2 separate regions of the Homo sapiens genome follow, and region 2 is linked to region 1. The links come from fine-mapping of genetic effects on gene expression. Tissue or cell type: whole blood. Region 1 holds a variant in brackets; the other region holds the start of a gene. All regions are shown on one strand. Distances are between the middles of the regions.

The links. PIP is the estimated chance that this variant, and not a neighbour inherited with it, causes the effect.
Region 2: TRIQK starts here. The variant in region 1 is fine-mapped to the expression of TRIQK in whole blood (INTERVAL, PIP 0.98).

The regions. Positions count from the first base shown.
Region 1 is chr8:92,878,975-92,886,722 of GRCh38, forward strand. It overlaps TRIQK (triple QxxK/R motif containing), which reads right to left. Exons shown (of 5, transcript NM_001171797.2): 5 at 4,560-7,748. The coding sequence ends at 7,648. Among named protein-coding and RNA genes, the nearest start is that of TRIQK, 83 kb to the right of the region's middle. The variant C/A (reference allele first, on the strand shown) is at 4,695.
Region 2 is chr8:92,959,957-92,971,728 of GRCh38, forward strand. It overlaps TRIQK (triple QxxK/R motif containing), which reads right to left and starts at 6,188. Exons shown (of 5, transcript NM_001171797.2): 1 at 6,051-6,188. RefSeq lists an enhancer at 5,395-5,504 and a silencer at 6,175-6,284.

The sequences.
Region 1 (7,748 bases):
GGCAAGAGTTATCGGACAAATAAATATAGAATGAATGAGTGAATACTGAATAAACGAATATAGAATGTAACGGAAACTAGCAGACAGATCTACTAGGTATATGGACTCAAGTTGTAGTTCAACAAAACATTTTCCTTCTAGTCCTCCCATAAGTTAAACACACAGAGACCAGTATCTTTAAACAAAATAGAATTGCATCACATTAATATTTTATAACTGCTTTTTCACCTACTCCTAAATTGGATATTTACATCACTTTCACTTTTTTGGTCATAAACAGTGATGCGGTTAATACATTTTTGCATACTACTGTCATTGTCACATATAGACGAATTTCTAAAGTATATATGAAATGTAAAGCTTTTGAAACATAAGTGCGTTCCAGAAAGTGTGTGAGATTATCATTCCCTCAAGCAGTGAATGAAAGAGATTGTTTCTTCACATCCTTAATTAACACTGAGTACCAGGCTGCATGTTAGATTTTAATTTAATGTGTTATAATCCAACAGTATTCCCTTTATGATTTCTAACTCATGAATCAACGCCTAGAAATAATTTTCCTTACAAAATGATTCTAAAAACGTCTACCTATAATTTCTTCTAATACTTTTTATGGTTTCATTTTTTATATAGAAATCATAAATTCCACCAGAATTCATCTTGTTTTAAGTCATGATATAGGCATCTTTTAATTTCTAAAAGGATACTAAATTGTTCCAATACATTTAATTAATCTATCTTTCCATCTGCATGACATACATAATGCATTAAATGAATATTTATATTTAGATCTGTTTCTGGACACTGCATTTTTTTCTGTTGATCTGTCTACTTTTCATTGACTATGACATTATTTTAGTTACTATAACTTTATAATATACTTTAATATATTGCAGATCAAGTTTCCCTTTTCTGTTTACAAAATAGAGGAAAATTTACATTTGTACAATGTTGAACCTTCCTATCCATGGAGACAGTTGGTGTCTTTTCAATTAAAACTTCATTATGTTATCTTGTAGAGCTTTTTTTTCAATGAACACTCATACATTTCTGCTCATTTTTTCTACATAGTCCATAATTTTAATTGCAATGGTGAAACACGTTTTTCTATTATGATATTTAACTAATTATTCTAATTATTGTGTTAATATAGAGAACAATAAAACTATTGATTATTACATACTTATTATCTAAAGAAATATGTTATATAAATCTTATACAATATTTTCTTAGTTTTCTAGTCAACCACATAATCTTAAAATTTTAGTTTTTTCCATTTTTTGCCATATTTATTATTTATTCCTGCTGTCTTAAAAACTGAATTACACTGGCTATCACTTTCAGAAAAATGTATAACAATGTAAAAGCATTAAACTCATGATTTTAATGAGAATACTTCTAATATTAAGCATGATAATTGAATTCTCATCTCAGTACTGAAAAGAATGATGATGGCAATGGGCTGAAACACATCATATATATAAAATATATAACTAGATTATAATAATAAAAGCAGCAACAGCAATAACAATGGCAAATCTTCATTGGCCACCATTAGAGAGTGCTAATTCATTAATCTGAAATTTAAGAAAGGGAAAGACTCAAGTATTTATCCTTCCTCTCCTGTATAAGCTGTATTTTCAGATGATCAAATAGTTGATAAAGAAGATTATTTTTAAACATAATAATTCCACTTAATATATGCTGAAGGAATGAAAGAAAATCACCATTTTGCAATGCCTGATGAGATAATGCATCCAGGAAAGGTGATGTTGATGAAAAAACCTTATTTTGCAGGAAATCACATTACTAGCACATCAATTCACTGATAAGTCTAACATCACAAATGAGACCACCAAGTATTATGTAACTCATTAAGTACTACGAAATACTCTCAGCTTAAGAACTAACAAACCACAGTCATAAAAAACTGGACCTAATCTAGCTTAATATCTCATTATCGGGTTATAGAAAATAAGAAAAATATAGGAATAAAATGACTAACACAATGAAAAGTACTAAATCTAGATTACTTGACATTCGAAAGGACAAATAAACAGCAAACAAAATTGCTGTTTTCTTCAGCAATTCAATGGCCTGGATTATTTTTTTACAGAATAAAAGAAATTTAAGAGACACGCAACCAAATTCAGCATGGACTTAATTTTAAAATCTCTTGTAAATAGCCATCTTGGAAACAATTAGGGACATCTGAATATTGACAGTATTAGATTATATTAGGAAATATATATATATTCTACCAATAGCTTTCTGGTAATATAAAAACAAAACAAAACAAAAAACCAACCAACAAAAATCCCAACATTCTTGTCAGTTAGAGATGCATACTGAAATATTTACAGTAAAATGACATCATATCTGAAGTCTGCTTTAAAATACCTCAGTATAAAAAAATGGTGAAAATATGCAAAAGAGTGGGGATACATTAATAATTATTGAAACTAGGTAATGGGTAGATTGAGATTATTACATTATTCTCTCTACTTTTGTGTAATACATGTGGTTAGTGATAAAAAAAGCAAGCAAGAAGTAAGAGAGAGGGGAAAAGCAGGTGAGGATCAATGACGAGTCTAAATAAAAGGGTAGAGGTAGTTAACACAGTAAGTACATAGTTAAGTACGTGAGAGTGCTAACCTATTAAAGTAGAAGTGAGGTTCAAAAAAAAAAAAAACTGAAAGAAGAGAGACTGCCTGGAACTTAGAATTAAGGCAAATAGGGTAGAAGTTGAAGAGCTGGAGAAGGGAGCAAAAGCACTCTTAAGCTACCTAGAAGGGCACTCCCTATCTGGATCACAAATGTTTGGGAGGTAGCATCATAAAAGATTTTCATGTATGGGGTATTTCTCTTTAGTTTACCAACTTCCACACTGTTGTTTAGTGTAAAGCATCCTAATAGGCGCTAAGATTATAAACTCCACCTCATGGCCACTACAGCAAGAATTATATCCAACATTGTTTATAAAATCTTATTTTAGAAATTGCTGCAATTTAAGAGACTTTAAAGATATCTTCAATCTCACTATATCAACATGAAAAGAAAATCCCTCTGAATTTTGTGTTATCCTAGGACATACCTAGAAGGCAATCCAGTGAAGACCTGCCTTGTCACATTCAACAGAGTAATTGCAGAAGCAATTTGTTACAAGCAGATGGATAGTTGAACACTAAAAAGGATGATAAGCTAGAAAGAAATTAGATATTGAAATCAATTTCTTTTAGGCTTACCATGATACTTCAGTTTCACACAAACAATTGTATTTGAAGAAGTCAGGGAAAAAAATGCCATACTAAGATGGGTGCCCATGAAAACAGAACTTTACACATGCTATAGCCTTCATAGTCACCATTTACTTGATTGGTCCAAATATTTATAGTTCATTGTTATGACTGCCAAAACTGGCAACCACAAGGATTGTTGTCTCAATTAGGACAGTAAACAGATTGTCTCTTTTTTTAATGAAAAAATCTAAAATGTAATACTTCACAGTTTAACATGTTTATTCATCTAAACGAGCTAAAAAATAATGGTGCGACATCTGTTCGAGAGGCATTGGTACCTCAAATTTTGGCTGCCTCCCCACCAATTTGGTTGTTGTTTTAAAAAATGAAGAATAGGAGGGAGTACTGTCATCAAAAAATCTTCTGGCATGTAACGTATCTTATTTTTCTTGAAATAAGAATCACATATCTGTTGCTAGGGATAGAAAAACTGTATAACAAGGAGGCACTATGCTGAATGTGGCTACAGTTCAATTGTTTAACTCAATTACTGACCCACTATGGATATTTCCATACTGATATAGTTCTTTACATGACTCTCCCAGTTCCCTCTCTACTTACCTTTATAGCTAAAATATCAACAAAATGGTAAGAATGTTCCTGTAGGTTGAATTCATCTGCTACATTTTTTTTTTAACCGTGGGTTGCACTGATTCTAAATATGGTTTAAGTGGAACAAAATCTAGCAAACAGCATTCTATCCAGGCTGCATTGGAGCAATTCTAATAAAAGAAGGCAGTGCTGCTAAGGGAGAAGTGGTAGGAATCTCCCAGAGAAGCCCCAGGTAAGTGTAAAGAAGTCTAATTGTTGGTGAGGAGAGAATACAAAATTATCTTAGGTAGTCTCTGGCTCAACAACTTTATGTTATGGATGAAATACATTAAAATAGGCTGGGTTTAATTTCTAGAAGTATATTTCTGACGCTGATGTATAGCACAATTTGCTCTACTGAATTATCATTGAGTATATAATTTTAGAACCTGGAAAATACAGTGTTTTAGTAGTCACATAAACATTATAATGAAAATTGAGTTCTATTTTCATTTGGAGTGAAAATGCATGCTAAGTTGAATTCAAACATTGAGTATAGTTTTTAATAAATTCTAAGATAAAAATAGCATATTTGATTCCCTAGAAAAGAGCAATGTTTCTATTTTATAGCGACCTTAATGCTAGTTGTCTTGATTTAAAGAGAATCAGGATGAAACACGTATATATCTCAGTACAACCAAGGACCATAAATGGTAAATGCCGAGTTGATTGATATTGTGATTTTTAAGTTTTATTGATTAAATTCAAACTTTTTTATCATTTACACAAAGAAACTGTGACAGACTCTGAGAGGACTAAAAGGCATCAACTTAAATTTTAACATGCATTTATTAAATTTATATG[C/A]AGATGACTACACTACTGCAATTACAGAAATGAGTAAGAACATACTCTCAAGATCTTACAGTCATTGGTTGGGGTGAAAGTATTTCTTCTGTCTTCATGAAAAATTAAAAAGATAGAAAATCTTGAAGTATTTTGCTACCTTAAAACAACTACCCACCCTACATTTGTACTAAAATAGGCTTTTGCTTGTTTTAAAAGCAATTCTAGATGAGGTTATATTTTTACAATACTGTATCTCATCTCAAATAAATTTATACATTCTTTACCCTGTCTAAACTTGCATGCAAAATAAGAACCAGCAAGCCTTCAAACTTCAATCACAGTATTCCATAGGCTATATTTTAAGTCTATTGCATTAGTTGAAATTTATTTTGCAGAGTATGTTAACAAACATATTCTAACACTTAAAAAATCATTACAATTTTTTCTGTTTTTGTCTTCTAAATTACTCTGAGCAGTGAATTACTGGAGGGAAGATACCCATGTCTAAAATTTGTGTCTGGTGCCAGTCTCAGATTTCTGCCAAACACCAGTAGGTATTCAAAAGTGTGGTCCCTTTAAAACAGCAGGCCGGATATCACCTTTCTGTCTTCAAAGATTCAAACCAGACTCCCAATCTGGGATTTCTCTACAGAGGGTTGGCTGCTTCCCAGTTAATGTGAGTTTTGCAAAGTTTGCATTTCATGAAAACAGTGTTGTGTAAACATATATTGTGTCACTTTACCTACTATTTACTAAAATCAGAGAGTTTAGCCTTTGAAATTTATGGTTCTCTGGAGCTATCATAAATCAATCAGTCATACGAATGGACTAGCTGTAGACTCAGGATATCAATAAAACTAGGCAGTGAAATTTGCCTATAATTATACTATATTTAGATTAATAGTTATCAAAAACATTTTTCCCCAAAAAATACCTCAAGGGTAAAACAGAATGGTAAAGTTTTTTTCAGGATAATGAATTTTCAAACATTTCCAAGACCATAACCAGCCATTTTAAGTACTGTAAACTCTGTTATATTTCATTTGGATAAGTATCTAATAAGCAATTATTACATATCCTCTCATTTAAATTACCACTGAAAACTAGAAATAATCTTTATTTAATACGACTGTTTTAACACCATATGGAACGGGAAATAACTAAATGAAAATTGTTCACGTAAATGTGATGGGAGTGGGGGGGTGGGGAGCAGTATTTCTTGACATGTGGCATGTCACTCAGGAAAGTAAAAGGCCCATCATATCCAAAATGCCAGCTTGGATATTCCCTTGCCACCCACTTGACGAACAGACATACCACATGGCATTAAATGCTGCAACCTTTCCTAAAAATGCCACTTGGATTGGTCCGCTGTGGTGAGTATATAAGAACTCTTGGTCTGTCTCTTGAGTCTGTGAGTTCAAAGGGAAGAATCTAGTAAATAACACCGGCTAAATTTTGCCCTCAGATGTTTGGCATAAATGATTTGTGAGGATATTGGAACCTTTGGCTGTTTTCACACCAATGAAATAAATTATGCTACTTGAAAAAAATTCTACAGAACATAATGCTACACAGTCACAGTCGACTTTTTGCAAAAGTACCAGAGAATATCTTTTAGAAACAGTGCTTATAAAGCCCCATATACTCCTTAGATATTTCCCAAGGATTTCTTCTCTTGGCTAGCAGGAAAACAATCTTAATATTTTATTTATTCTTCATAAATACAATGTATATAATATAAAACACTTTGTGCACATGTTTCCAACAATTTCATTTTCTATGCATCTTTACATAAGGTAGTAGCTAATAACTCTTTCTGTGGACACGTATTTTCCAGTTTTCTAAGGTTTATGTGTTCAAGCATTGTAAAAACATATTTAAAAATTGAATTACCAGTAAAAATATTGAATGTACAGGTCATTATGCTCCCACAAATACAAAATACATTGAAAAATTATATCAACAGATAATTACATATGAAATATGAGGCATATATTTTCTTCTATTATTTATTTTCTCCCTAAAGAGTTCTAATTGATTAAATCTCAAGAGACAAAATGTAATTTTATAAAACAACTGTATTGTTCAGATTTAGGAGACAACCTAAGAAGATGATTCTGAGTAGGTAGGATTTTTGCTATTACTGTTATGTGAAAAAGACTGCTCAATTAAATGACAGATTGTTACATATCTCCCTAACAAGAGGGGCGAACTGATACTACAAGCAGCCAGAACAACATAATTAGAATAGAATTCCAAGGTTATATTAATAGAGTAATAAGTTAATTAAAACCAAGATCAACTGAGCTTCTATTTACACCAGTTCAGACAGCCCAAGAGGAAAAGAACTCTATTTTAGAGACATATGTGACTCTTTGAGCTTCTGTCATCCAGGTGCCATTTCTGATGCAGCACATGTGCACTGAACAGTTGGCAAAGAAGGAAAAAGATTATGGTAGATGTATGTGCAGATAGTCTCTCTAATGATGTAAAATACGTCCAGAAAGAAAGCAGGGCTTTGTTGTAAAATAAAAAATTTCCCATGACTTTTTGTTCTTTCTGAATGTGATTTGAGCATGTTTCTGTAAATAAGAATATATACTAACTTATGATGTATATAGAACAAAAATAGACTTACTCATCAGGAAGTGATGGAATTATACACATAAATTGGCAATGACATTTGAAAAATTTAGGATCTGGTTCCCATTTCATCTAAATGTACCATGTATAGGGTGGCTGTCAAAGCAGAAAGATATATAAAAGTATCCAGTAGCACATACTATACTGCATTGCTAGGTAAGGTTCTTTTCCTGACATCCTATGCAACTATCAAAAATCATATGTCTGCAAACTGAAAATATTAGCAGAAAGAATTAAAGATGTTACAGTTTCAGTATTGAAAGTTTTGGTCCCAAAAGGTGCTTTCGTAAAGTTATTTCTCTTTCATGCATTGATTGTTGCTTAGCTAATCTTCATCTTGGTCCAGATCAGGGTCAACATCCGTGGTGAGTCTGAGATAAAAGAAAGCATAGAAAGCCAGTAGTAGTGCCAATATAGCTGCAAGTA
Region 2 (11,772 bases), 83 kb after region 1:
AGGCCAGCCTAATAACATGCTTTTTTCTTTTCTTTCTTGATATGGAAAACATTTATTTTCTTTATCATCATAATTTGACAATTTTGTGATTTTTGTGTCTCTTTAAGTTGTCATGCCTTACATAAAAAAGGCCCTTTCTTCCTTCATAGGTCTTTTTCAGCTCAGGAAAGTTTTTTCTCCTATTTATTTTTAAAATTATTTTTCTTTCAAATACTCTGTTCTTTTCTTCAGGAACAACTATTTGTCTATCTATCTATCTATCTATGTATCTATCTTCTTGTCTCTTTTTCAGAGACTCCAAATATCCACACAGTGGACTCTATTCTTTATTCTCCATATATCATCTTTTTATGATTTCCAATTTTTTAACTAAAATAACCTCTCAAATCTATTCTCTACACCGACTAAACTTTGTACAACGACATCAATTCTATTTGTTACTGCCTCAAATATAGATTTTTAATGCTTTTGTGATAGGCAAAATAATGTTCCCCCAATCCAAAAATGTTCAAGTCCTAATTCCCATAACCTACAAATAAGTTACCTTAGATTGCAGAAGGGACTTTGCAGACATGATTCAATGAAGAACCTCAAAATGGACAGATTGTCCTGAATTATCTGGATGTGTCTTCAAAAGTAGATAACCCTTCCAGATGTGGTCAGGAGACATGACAACAAAATAAGTCAGATTGCTGCAATGTTGCTGGCTTTGACGTTGGAAGAAGGAGGCCATAAGCCAAGGAATGTGAGCAGCCTCCAGAAACTACAAAAGACAAGGAAACCAACCATCTCTCCTAGAGCCTCCAGAAAGGAATGCAGCCCTGTCCCGACCTTGATTTCAGCCCAAAGTGACCTATATCAGACTTCTGAACCACAGAACTGTCAGATACTAAATTTGTGTTATTTTAAGTCACTAAATGTGGGGTAATGTGTTATAAGAGGAACAAAACTGATACGGCTCTCATATTTTCAGTTTCTCATCATTTTGTTTTCTCTTACTATCTTCTCTCTGACACTTCATCACTGTCTGTTATTTTTACATGAAGTTCTCCTATCCATAGAAGCCATGTATTCTTGAATGTGTTGGACGGCAAATAACTCCCCGAAATGTTCTTCCTTCCTTAGCTTAAAATTATTTTTAGAGATTCATAGGTATGCCTCTGAGTTTTCTACTGATAACCTCTGCCTTGATTTTGTAGGATGTCTTGTTTCACTTGATTTATTTTCAAATGTTAATTTATCCAGAATATTTTAGCACTGAAAAAACTGTATAGATAATTTCTACATAAGCCAGTGTTTTCCATTTATCGATAAAGGGGACGGTGTTGAGGGGAGGCAGAAAATGAACTCCCTAGGAATGCAGACAAAGCAGAATCGGAAACTGGGAGGTTCTTTTTAAAACTGTACCTTCCCATCCTGAAAAAAAAAATCTGATATACCTCCTCTGCCCAGAGAGATTCAGTACTATATACTGAGTCACTGTGAATGACGGCAACGTATTATAATGCTCAAGCATGTTGTTCAAAAAAAAGAAAAATCTTCAACCTTTTCCACATAGATAATTAACTTGACTGGAAAGTTATTAATACCCAACAAAGGATATTTCTACCTACAGAGCTAAGTCTAAAACTTTCAATACAGTGCACCTTCCACCTGCTATAGGTAATAAACTATAATCCACAATTAGGACTTTGCCACAGGTATCCATATAGTTCATTATTCCATACCCTGCAATATTTGAATATTTTAACATTCAAAGTATGTAAAACAAATGTTATTTGGATTAACCTATCTTTCTTTTGTCATTGTCAAACTTTTAAATTGTTCAATACAATTGGTCTGTTATTTTTGCAACTACGTCACTAAATAATACTACTACAGAAGAACTAAGCTAGTTTATGCTGTTGTCATTCTCCACTTCAGTGGCTTAAAAGTCATGTGACTGACAAGAGTCTTTCATTAATGGAACTGTCTTTGCCTTTTGAGTCAAAAAAACTGTTAAACCACTGAATATGGAGTATTTACCTTTTTATTGTTTAACATTTCAAAATTACGAATTAAGTAGGAATCATTTATTTTTCATGGAAACATACACCTATCTCACTCTATTGTTGCAAAGATGCTGAACATTTCTACCATATAAAAAAGGTATAAATATATATAATGGTATGAAAAATTAGCTCTAGGCCTACATGATCCTTATCTGTTTAATAGGAAATTTGAGAATATCAAATATGATCAAATATGTATCACTATTTTCCATTAGTATTATTTTAGTCACTCTGGATGAATACCAAAAAACCACAAAATTCTAAGTAATATTGTTTAAGACATTAACACTTTGAGTCAAATCTACTGATATCAAAAACACAGATACATATGCACAAAGATTAAGGAGAAAGCTGGCTGAGTTTCGCGTTTCTACATAGAAGAATGTCCACTGGAGCAGGGACTCTCAAAAGATGCTTTGGCATTGGAGTGAGACAAAGAAATTCTTTATTGAGCTGATAGATCTCTACATTACACAATATTTATCATCTCTGAACTTCAGGATCCCAAAAGCCAGTAGTACTTCCTTTAAAGAAATTAGAATAATTTTAAAACACCCTGGCATATTTCAAATACCCCAGAGGTGTCACCCAGAATGGAAAACCATTCTGGAAATGGAAAACCAGAGCACTAGATTAACAGTCCTGGCCTCAGATCCCACTTCTTCTTCACAGCTTACCAAAAAGAGACGTATCTGACCGGTTCACATTACTCCACCGGTAGAGCTAACCCATTATAAACCACTAAGCACTGGAGATTTTCCATCTTTTATTAGACCTCTGCCCTACACCATGAAAAGCAGTAATTGTAAGTAAGCGTATCTGTTCCGCAATCTGAAATTTTTCTCTCAGCTGAACTAAAGTCTAGGTTCTGGGAAAGAGAGTAGGAGTAAAAGGGGATAGGAAGTACTAGTACTCATTTTTGGTCTCATTTTTGCATAAAGCACTATCCCCACTCGACTTGTTATTGCAAGTTGAAGTTGATATGGCAGGCGCCACATGTCTGTTTACAAACGCAAGAGAGGAAGGAAAGAGCTATTATTGAGCCCCTAAAAATCTCTAAATCCATTGTAATGCTCTCTCTAAGCCATTTGTCTTTATCCCTGTTTCTCTACCAGAAATGAACAGAGTTGAATAAAGAAAGAGTCAAGTACCAAACAGTTCAAATAAAATTACAAGTACTAACGAAATAACAGGTGCATATATACATTTATGCGTTTTACAAAAGCAATAGCTCTTTACCTCTTCAAGTTTTTCCTTATCCAATAACAACTTTTTATATCTACTACTGATATCCACTTTTATTGATAAAGCTAGATAGGGAATCAGACCAAAGAAAATAATGAACTCTATTTACAGATTTCTATATGAATATAGAAATCAGGAAAAGAGCCACAGTGAAAACAACCACAATTCTTTTTAGCCACAAATTAAAATGTTATAAAAGATTATTCACTTAAGTTTAAAAAAAAAAAAACAGTTCTAAGTATCAAGTAATGATATTCCAGTGGCATGTACTAAAAATAATCAGCTTTTCTTTGTCCAAAACGGACCTCGATAGATGAGAAAGTTTATGGATTTAATGTTCATCTCAAAAGTACAATTTTGGCCAGACGCGGTGGCTCACCCCTGTAATCTCAACACTTTGGGAGGCCGAGGCGGGCGGATCACCTGAGGTTGGGAGTTCGAGACCAGCCTGACCAACATGAAGAAACCCCGTCTGTACTAAAAATACAAAATTAGCCAGGTGTGGTGGTGCACTCCTGTAATCCCAGCTACTCGGGAGGCTGAGGCAGGAGAATTGCTTGAACCAGGAAGGCAGAGGTTGTGGTGAGCTGAGATAGCGCCATTGCACTCCAGCCTGGGCAACAAGAGTGAAACTCCGTCTCAAAAAAAAAAAAAAAATACAGTTTCACATTTTTCTCAAAATATTTGACAATGTTCTTTTTACTTGTTTAAATACCAGAATATGCTTTAAGAGGTTATGATCAAAGGGCATTTGGGATAAAACATAGATTACATGGTTTTGTAAGATAGCAACAAATAACTGAACATTAGTAGTTCCCGTTTGTTAGTGCTCAAAAAAACAAAAAAGTACAATGGGAAAGGGGGCCCCAAAAGGGAACTGCAGATGACTGAAGGCCTTGAACAAAGGTATGTTATGGTAAGAGGCACTGTGGAAGAAAGGCAAAAGCCCCACTCTGCTCCCAGCTATGTAGCCTTGGGTAAAAGTTACTTAGTCTCTCTGTAGGATGAGGCAAGTGGGAGAGAATAATTTCCTTATCCCTAAAGAAGTTGAACAAAAACAGGGTCCATTTAGGCTTAAAATTGTGCATTTTTCTGAGGAGCAAGTCAATAGCTTTCCTTGGTTTCTCAAAGTGGTAAATGACACCAAAAAGGTTAGTCATCCTCGCATTAAAAGGTAATGTTTCCCAATCTTTTCAGGTATATATATATATCTATATATATATATATATCTAGTGATATTAAAGAGGAAAAGGTGTCATTCAAGACATTACAGGTTCTACCTAACCAGAACCAACACAGAATCAATAATGAATAGATGAGTTAATTTCTTCCCCATTTCTAAATAACCCTAAGATTAAAAAAAAAAAAAATCACAAGGGAAATTTGAAAATACTTAAAGCTGAATGGCAATACTTATACGTGTTTATAAATTTGGATCATATACACAAAAAGATTAAAAGTGTAATCAATAATGCTTTACATTTGTGTGGATCATTACTTTAATGATACTTTCACAACCAATTATTCCTCCTTTTTTAGGAAGGAAGGGCATATCCTAGAGTCTCCAATTTACAGATAACGAAACAATTATTGCCCAAGGACAAACATTTCTTAACCATGCCAGTTTCCTGACTTGTAGGCCAATGCTCCTCCCAATGTTAACAAGCAGCACAAGCTTCCTTCCTGGGGGTTTGCACTGTAAACCTGCCAGAGGAAAATAAAAGATTTTTACCTCTTTTGTTTTTTCTCTCTGGAATGTTTGTTGTGCTGAATCATTAGGAGACAGAGTATATGAGCAAACAAAGGCAGATTTAAAATGGTTATCTGAGGTTACCATCTCACACCATACTTGTTGATCATTAAGTATGAGCCGAGTGAAGCAAAAACAGCTCTACAGGTTTAGCACACCTCTCCACAGTAGAGAATGAAAGGGAGATTATACATTGGGGCTCCTCTAGCAATAAATTGCTTCAACTTCTTCAGGAGGCTTATTAAGCTCAAACAAGCAGCAGAGAACTCCAAGTAGAAGAAACCTAATCTCCAATCCCCTTTTCCTAGTCATCCACGCGGACACCAACATCTGATGGATTCAGGAATACACCAAGCTCCAAGAAAAATACCCCCGCCCCACAACCTCACCACCACCGATAAAGCCACCTAATCCTGTCTGAATCTCTTCTCTGCAAATGTTTTGGTATGCAAATACTCGTTCATTAATAAGAGGAAGCAGGAAAAAGAGTGAAGAGGAGTACCATGGGAAAGGGGGCCCCAAAAGGGAACGGCAGAACCCAGAGAGCTGCACTGACAAGTAAGCGACCGCGAGTAATCGGTCAGCACAAAGGAGCCAATCCCGAGCCGCGTGGAAGACCTTGGGAGGTGGGCGGGACTAACGTGTCCAGGGCCCAGCGGCTGGCGCCAGACACGCTGGCAGGGCGGGAACCGCGCGTTCCTTAGCAACCGCAATGGCCACGCCCACCGAACCCAGCACCCTCCATCCCCCATCCCGCAGCCAGCGCCCTACTCAACGGGAACGGGTCCTTCAGTGATCACCGTACCTACTGGGTTTCCCGGACTCCGGGTTTCTCTTGCAGAGCCTCCCTCCGCCCAGCCCCACCAAGTGCCGCTCCCAGGGACGGAACGATCGTCTCCCAAACGCTTTAGGGCTCGCTAAAGAGGTGCGCCCGCTTTCATTCCCGGACCCCGAGCTTCCCGGGCAGGGTCTCCCCAATCCCCTCGCACTCGCCGGACACACACCTCAGCTCTGCCAAGGCAAGGGCCGACAAACTTCGTGTCCTGTGGGAAATGTTGCTGTCCACGGTTCTGTCACTCAGGGGCAGGGGCGGGACAAGCCAGCCGCACACCCCTACTCCCAAAGGGTGAGGCGGAAAAGAGGCGAGGCTCTGCCCCCAGGGGCGGGACCAGGCCTCAGCCTGCTCTCGGATTGGTCGGCCTTTCTCCCGTCTGTACGCCGGTCCAGGACGCAAAGGCGCTGGCCCTGAGGCCTTTCCCTCATTTTGATGCCACTCCGGAGTTCTAATACCTGTCTCACGAGGTGACTGTAGAAATTAAAAATAAAGACTGTGACTTGTTTAGTTAATATAAAACGGAAAAATATGTTATTTTGATTATTGAACCCTCCCATCTCACACACACACACTCCCCAATTCACAGGATCATCCCTAAGGAGCGTCCCTAAGTGGAAGGGCGCACTGTCTGTGTAAACAATCAATTAATTGCCCATTCAAACAGCAAAAAAGAAAAAAAAATCGTTTTATATTAACATTAACCAGAGATTAATAAATTTAGGAAAGATTGCAAAAACGTGACTGACAATTAGGATTTAGGAGCCTATGTTCGGGTACTCAATTTTCACATCTACAAAATGGGAATGAAATATTAAGATGTTACTTATTGGAAAAGTATTCAAATATTAAATGCTTTATAAATTATACTCATGTAATCCTTACAAAACCCACTAAGAGTATTATCCACAGCCTATGGACAATGAAACACAGGCTAGGAAAGGCTAGATTTATTCAACCATTCAACAAATCTAAGTGCCTGCAGCCATCATTTTTTAATATTGTGGTGAACTAAATCTAAAATTCCTTCAAAAAATTATGCAACCTCCAATTTAATTTTTCTCTTGCTCACATAAAAGTCACCTTCCTCTAGGCCAGCCCCATCATATCTTTTTCCAAAAGCCCTTGAGAAAGAAAGTAGCATACAAAAAAAAAAAAAAAAAAAAAACTGAGACAAGTATAAATAGACTAACCAGAAGGCTTTCTGAAATCTCACAGAATATTATGGCCAGGAATTGAATCCAAAATGTAATTTTATTTTCCGTCCTCCTAAATCATTTTCTGGTCTCCAGTTCCTCTCCCAGAAATAAAGGTAGAGTTAAATGAGATTATATTAATACACTTAACCAGATTACTTATGTGTGTGGCTTTAAAATAGTGAAACTCTTTTTCCTTCCATATTAAACCAAAACCCAGAAGGGTTTATCTTGTCTGATAGATACGGTTGTAGTAAGAAAAAAGAAAAAAAAAAAGAGTACCTCTGGACAAGTGCCTTGAGATTCAATTAAAATGTTCATCGTACTGTGATGCAATTGTTGGAATAAAAGAAACCCATTCCAATTACAAATAATTTTACACTCTTGACCTGCTGAATATCCAAATTCTTCTGAAAGCTTGCTAAATGTGAATAACTCTCTATAAAACTTTCTTGATTTGTATGACTCAGAGTCCCCATTTTCTTTAATCTTTTAAAAATATTTGGTTTGGCCAGGTGTGGTGGTTCATGCCTGTAATCCCAGCACTTTGGGAAGCTGAGGTGGACGGATTGCCTGAGGTCAGGAGTTCCAGACCAGCCTGGCCAACATGGTGAAACCCCGTCTCTACTAAAAATACAAAAATTAGGCAGGCATGGTGGCAGGCACCTGTAATCCCAGCTACTCAGGAGCCTGAGGCAGGAGAATTGCTTGAGCCCGGGAGGCAGAGGTTGCAGTGAGCCGAGATTGCATCATTGCACTCCAGCCTGGGCAACTGAGTGGGACTCCATCTCAAAAAAAAAAAAAAAAAAAAATTAGTTTTAGACTAAAAAGAAAGAGTTATGATTATATATTAATAAATATATAAATAAATGCTGTAAGATTTAAATAAAAGTGGTGAATGTACTTGAGTCCATTTTCATTACATAAAGATGTACAGCAATGCATTTGTACAGCAAATGCATTGAATATTCTCACATATGTAAGATATTATACAACAAGAAGTAAATAGCTTAATGTAAAATTAAAACTTCCAGATGTATGTTATATGCTTATTTCTTTACCATATAAAGACATATATTATTGACTTACATTTCTAGCAAATTGAAATATAATTGGCTGCATAGTATTCTATGGTGTATATGTGCCACATTTTCTTTATCCAGTCTATTATTGATGGGCATTTGGGTTGGTTCCAAGTCTTTGCTATTGTGAATAGTGCTGCAATAAACATACGTTGGCATGTGTCTTTATAGTAGCATGATTTATAATCCTTTGGGCATATACCCAGTAATGGAATTCCTGGGTCAAATGGCGTTTCTGGTTCTAGATCCTTGAGGAATCACCACACTGTCTTCTACAATGGTTGAACTAATTGACACTCCCACCAACAGTGTAAAAGCATTCCTATTTCTCCACATCCTCTCCAGCATCTGTTGTTTCCTGCCTTTTTAATGATCACCATTCTAACTAGCATGAGATGGTATCTCATTGTGGTTTTGATTTGCATTTCTGTAATGACCAGTGATAATGAGCTTTTTTTATATGCTTATTGGACGCATAAATGTATTCTTTTGAAAAGTGTCTGTTCATATCCTTCACCCACTTTTTGATGCGGTTGTTTGTTTTTTTCTTGTAAATTTGTTTAAGTTCCTTGTAGATTCTGGATATTAGCCCTTTGTCAGATGGATAGATTGCAAAAGGTTTCTCCCATTCTGTAGGTTGCCTGTTTACTCTAATGATAATTTCTTCAGCTATACAGAAGCTCTTCAGTTTAATTAGATCCCATTTGTCAATTTTGGCTTTTGTTGCAACTGCTTTTGGAATTTTAGTTATAAGTCTCTGCCCATGCTTATGTCCCGAATGATATTGCCTAGGTTTTCTTCTAGGGATTTTATGGTTTTAGGTCTTACGTTTAAGTCTTTCATTCATCTTGAGTTAATATTTATATAAGGTATAAGGAAGGGGTCCAGTTTCAGTTTCCTGCATATAGCTAGCCAGTTTTCCCAACACCATTTATTAAATAGGGAATCCTTTCCCCATTGCTTGTTTTTGTCAGGTTTGTCAAAGATCAGATGGTTGTAGGTGTGTGGTGTTATTTGTGAGGCCTCAGTTCTGTTCCACTGGTCTATATATCTGTTTTGGTACCAGTACCATGCTGTTTTGGTTACTGTAGTATAGATTGAAGTCAGGTAACATGATGCCCCTCTTTGTTCTTTTTGCTTAGGATTTTCTTGGCTATATGGGCTCTTTTTTGGTTACATATTTAGAATTATGTTTCTGTGTTTCCAAGTATTTGAGAGTTGTCTAATATCTTACAGTTATTGACTTTTAATTCCATTGTAGTTAGAAAATATATATTGTAATATTTCAAATTTTATTGAAAATTATTGACACATATATTATAACCCAACATATGGTTTATCTTTATGACTGTTCTCAGTGTATTTGGAAAAAAAATGTGTATTCTGAAATTATGGAATGCAGTATGCTCTAAATGTTGATTATAGTCTATATCTTATGACAGTTTTTTTTTTTTGCTTTTAAAAACATTTTATTTATTTATTTTATTTTTTCATTTTACTTTAAGTTCTAGGATACATGTGCAGAATGTGCAGATTTGTTACTTAGGTATACATATGCCATAGTGATCCTTACCAACATTTTTAAGCATATTCTATCACTTATTGAAAGAAAGGTGTTAAATCTCCAACTATGCTTGTGCATTTGTTTATATTTTCTTTTTTTAAAAAAAATTAATTTTTTTTAAATTTTAGGTTCCAGGATACATTTGCAGAATATGTGGGTTTGTTACACAGGTAAACTTGTGCCATGCTGGTTTGCTGCACCTATCAACCCATCCCTTAGATATTAAGCCCAGCATGCATTAGTTATTTATCCTGATGCTCTCCCTCTCCAAATCCTCCCCTAGCAGGTCCCTGTGTATGTTGTTCCCCTCCCTGTGTCCATGTGTTCTCATTGTTCAGCTCCCACTTATAAGTGAGAATATTCAGTGTTTGGTTTTCTGTTCTTACATTAGTTTGCCGAGGGTAATGGCTTCTGGCTCCATTCACGTTCCTGCAAAGGACATGATCTCATTCCTTTTTATGGCTGCATAGTATTCCATGGTGTATATGTACCACATTTTCTTTATCCAGTCTATCATTGATGGGCATTTGGGTTGATTCTATGTCTTTGCTATGGTGCATAGTGCTGCAATGAACATGCGCATGCATGTATCTTTATAATAGAATGATTTGTATTCCTTTGGGTATATACCAAGCAATGGGATTGCTGAGTGGAATGGTGGTTCTGCAGTTCTGCTTCTAGGTCTTTAAGGAATTGCCACACTGTCTTCCACAATGGTTGAACTAATTTACATTTCCACCAACAGTGTAAAAGTGTTCCTATTTCTCCACAGTCTCACCAGCATCTGTTGTTTCTTGACTTTTTAATAATTGCCATTCTGACTGGTGTGAAATGGTATCTCATTATAGGTTTTGTTTGCATTTCTCTAATGATCAGTGATGTTGAACTTTTTTTCATATGTTTCTTGGCCACATAGATGTCTTCTTTTGAGATGTCCCTGTTCGTGTCTTTTGCCCACTTTTTAATGGGGTTGTTTTTCTCTTGTAAATCTGTTTAAGTTCCCTGTAGATTGTAGATATTAGACCTTTGTCAGATGGATAGACTGCAAAAATTGTCTCCCATTCTGTAGGTTATCTTTTCACTCATGATAGTTTCTTTTGCTATGCAGAAGCTCTTTAGTTTAATTAGGTCTCATTTTTCAATTTTTGCTTTTGTTGCAATTGCTTTTGATCTTTTGTCATGAAATCTTTGCCCATGTCTATGTCCTGAATGGTACTGCCTAGATTTTCTTCTAGGGTTTTTATAGTTTTGGGTTTTACATTTAAGTCTTTAATGCATCTTGAATTATTTTTTGTATAAGGTATAAGGTCGGGGTCTAGTTTCAGTTTTCTACATATGGCTAGTCAGTTTTTCCAGCGCTGTTTATTAAATAGGGAATCCTTTCCCCATTGCTTGTTTTTTTCCTGTTTGTCAAAAATCAGATGGTTGTAGATGTGTGGTCTTATTTCTGAGTTCTCTATCTGTTCCATTGGTCTATGTGTCTGTTTTTGTACCAACACCGTGCTTCTTTGGTTACTGTAGCCTTGTAGTATAGTTTAAAGTTACACACACAAGGGAACAAGACAAGGATGCCCTCTCTCACCACTCCTGTTCAGCATGGTATTGGAAGATATGGCCTGGGCAATCAGGCAAAAGAAAAAAATAAAGGGTATTCAAATAGGAAGAGAGAAGTCAAACTGTCTCTGTTTGCAGATGACATGATCCTGTAGCTAGAAAACCCCATTGTCTCAGCCCAAAAGCTTCTTAAGCTGCTAAACAACATCAGAAAAGTCTCAGGATACAACATCAATGTGCAAAAATCACAAGCAATTTTATACACCAACAATAGACAAGCAGAAAGCTAAATCATGAATGAACTTCCATTCACAATTGCTACGAAGAGAATAAAATACCTAGATATACAGCTAACAAGGGATGTGAAGGACCTCTTCAAGGAGAACTACAAACCACTGCTCAAGGAAATCAGAGAGGACACAAACAAATGGAAAAACATTCTCCATGCTCATGAATAGGAAATATCAATATCCTGAAAATGGCCATATTGCCCAAAGT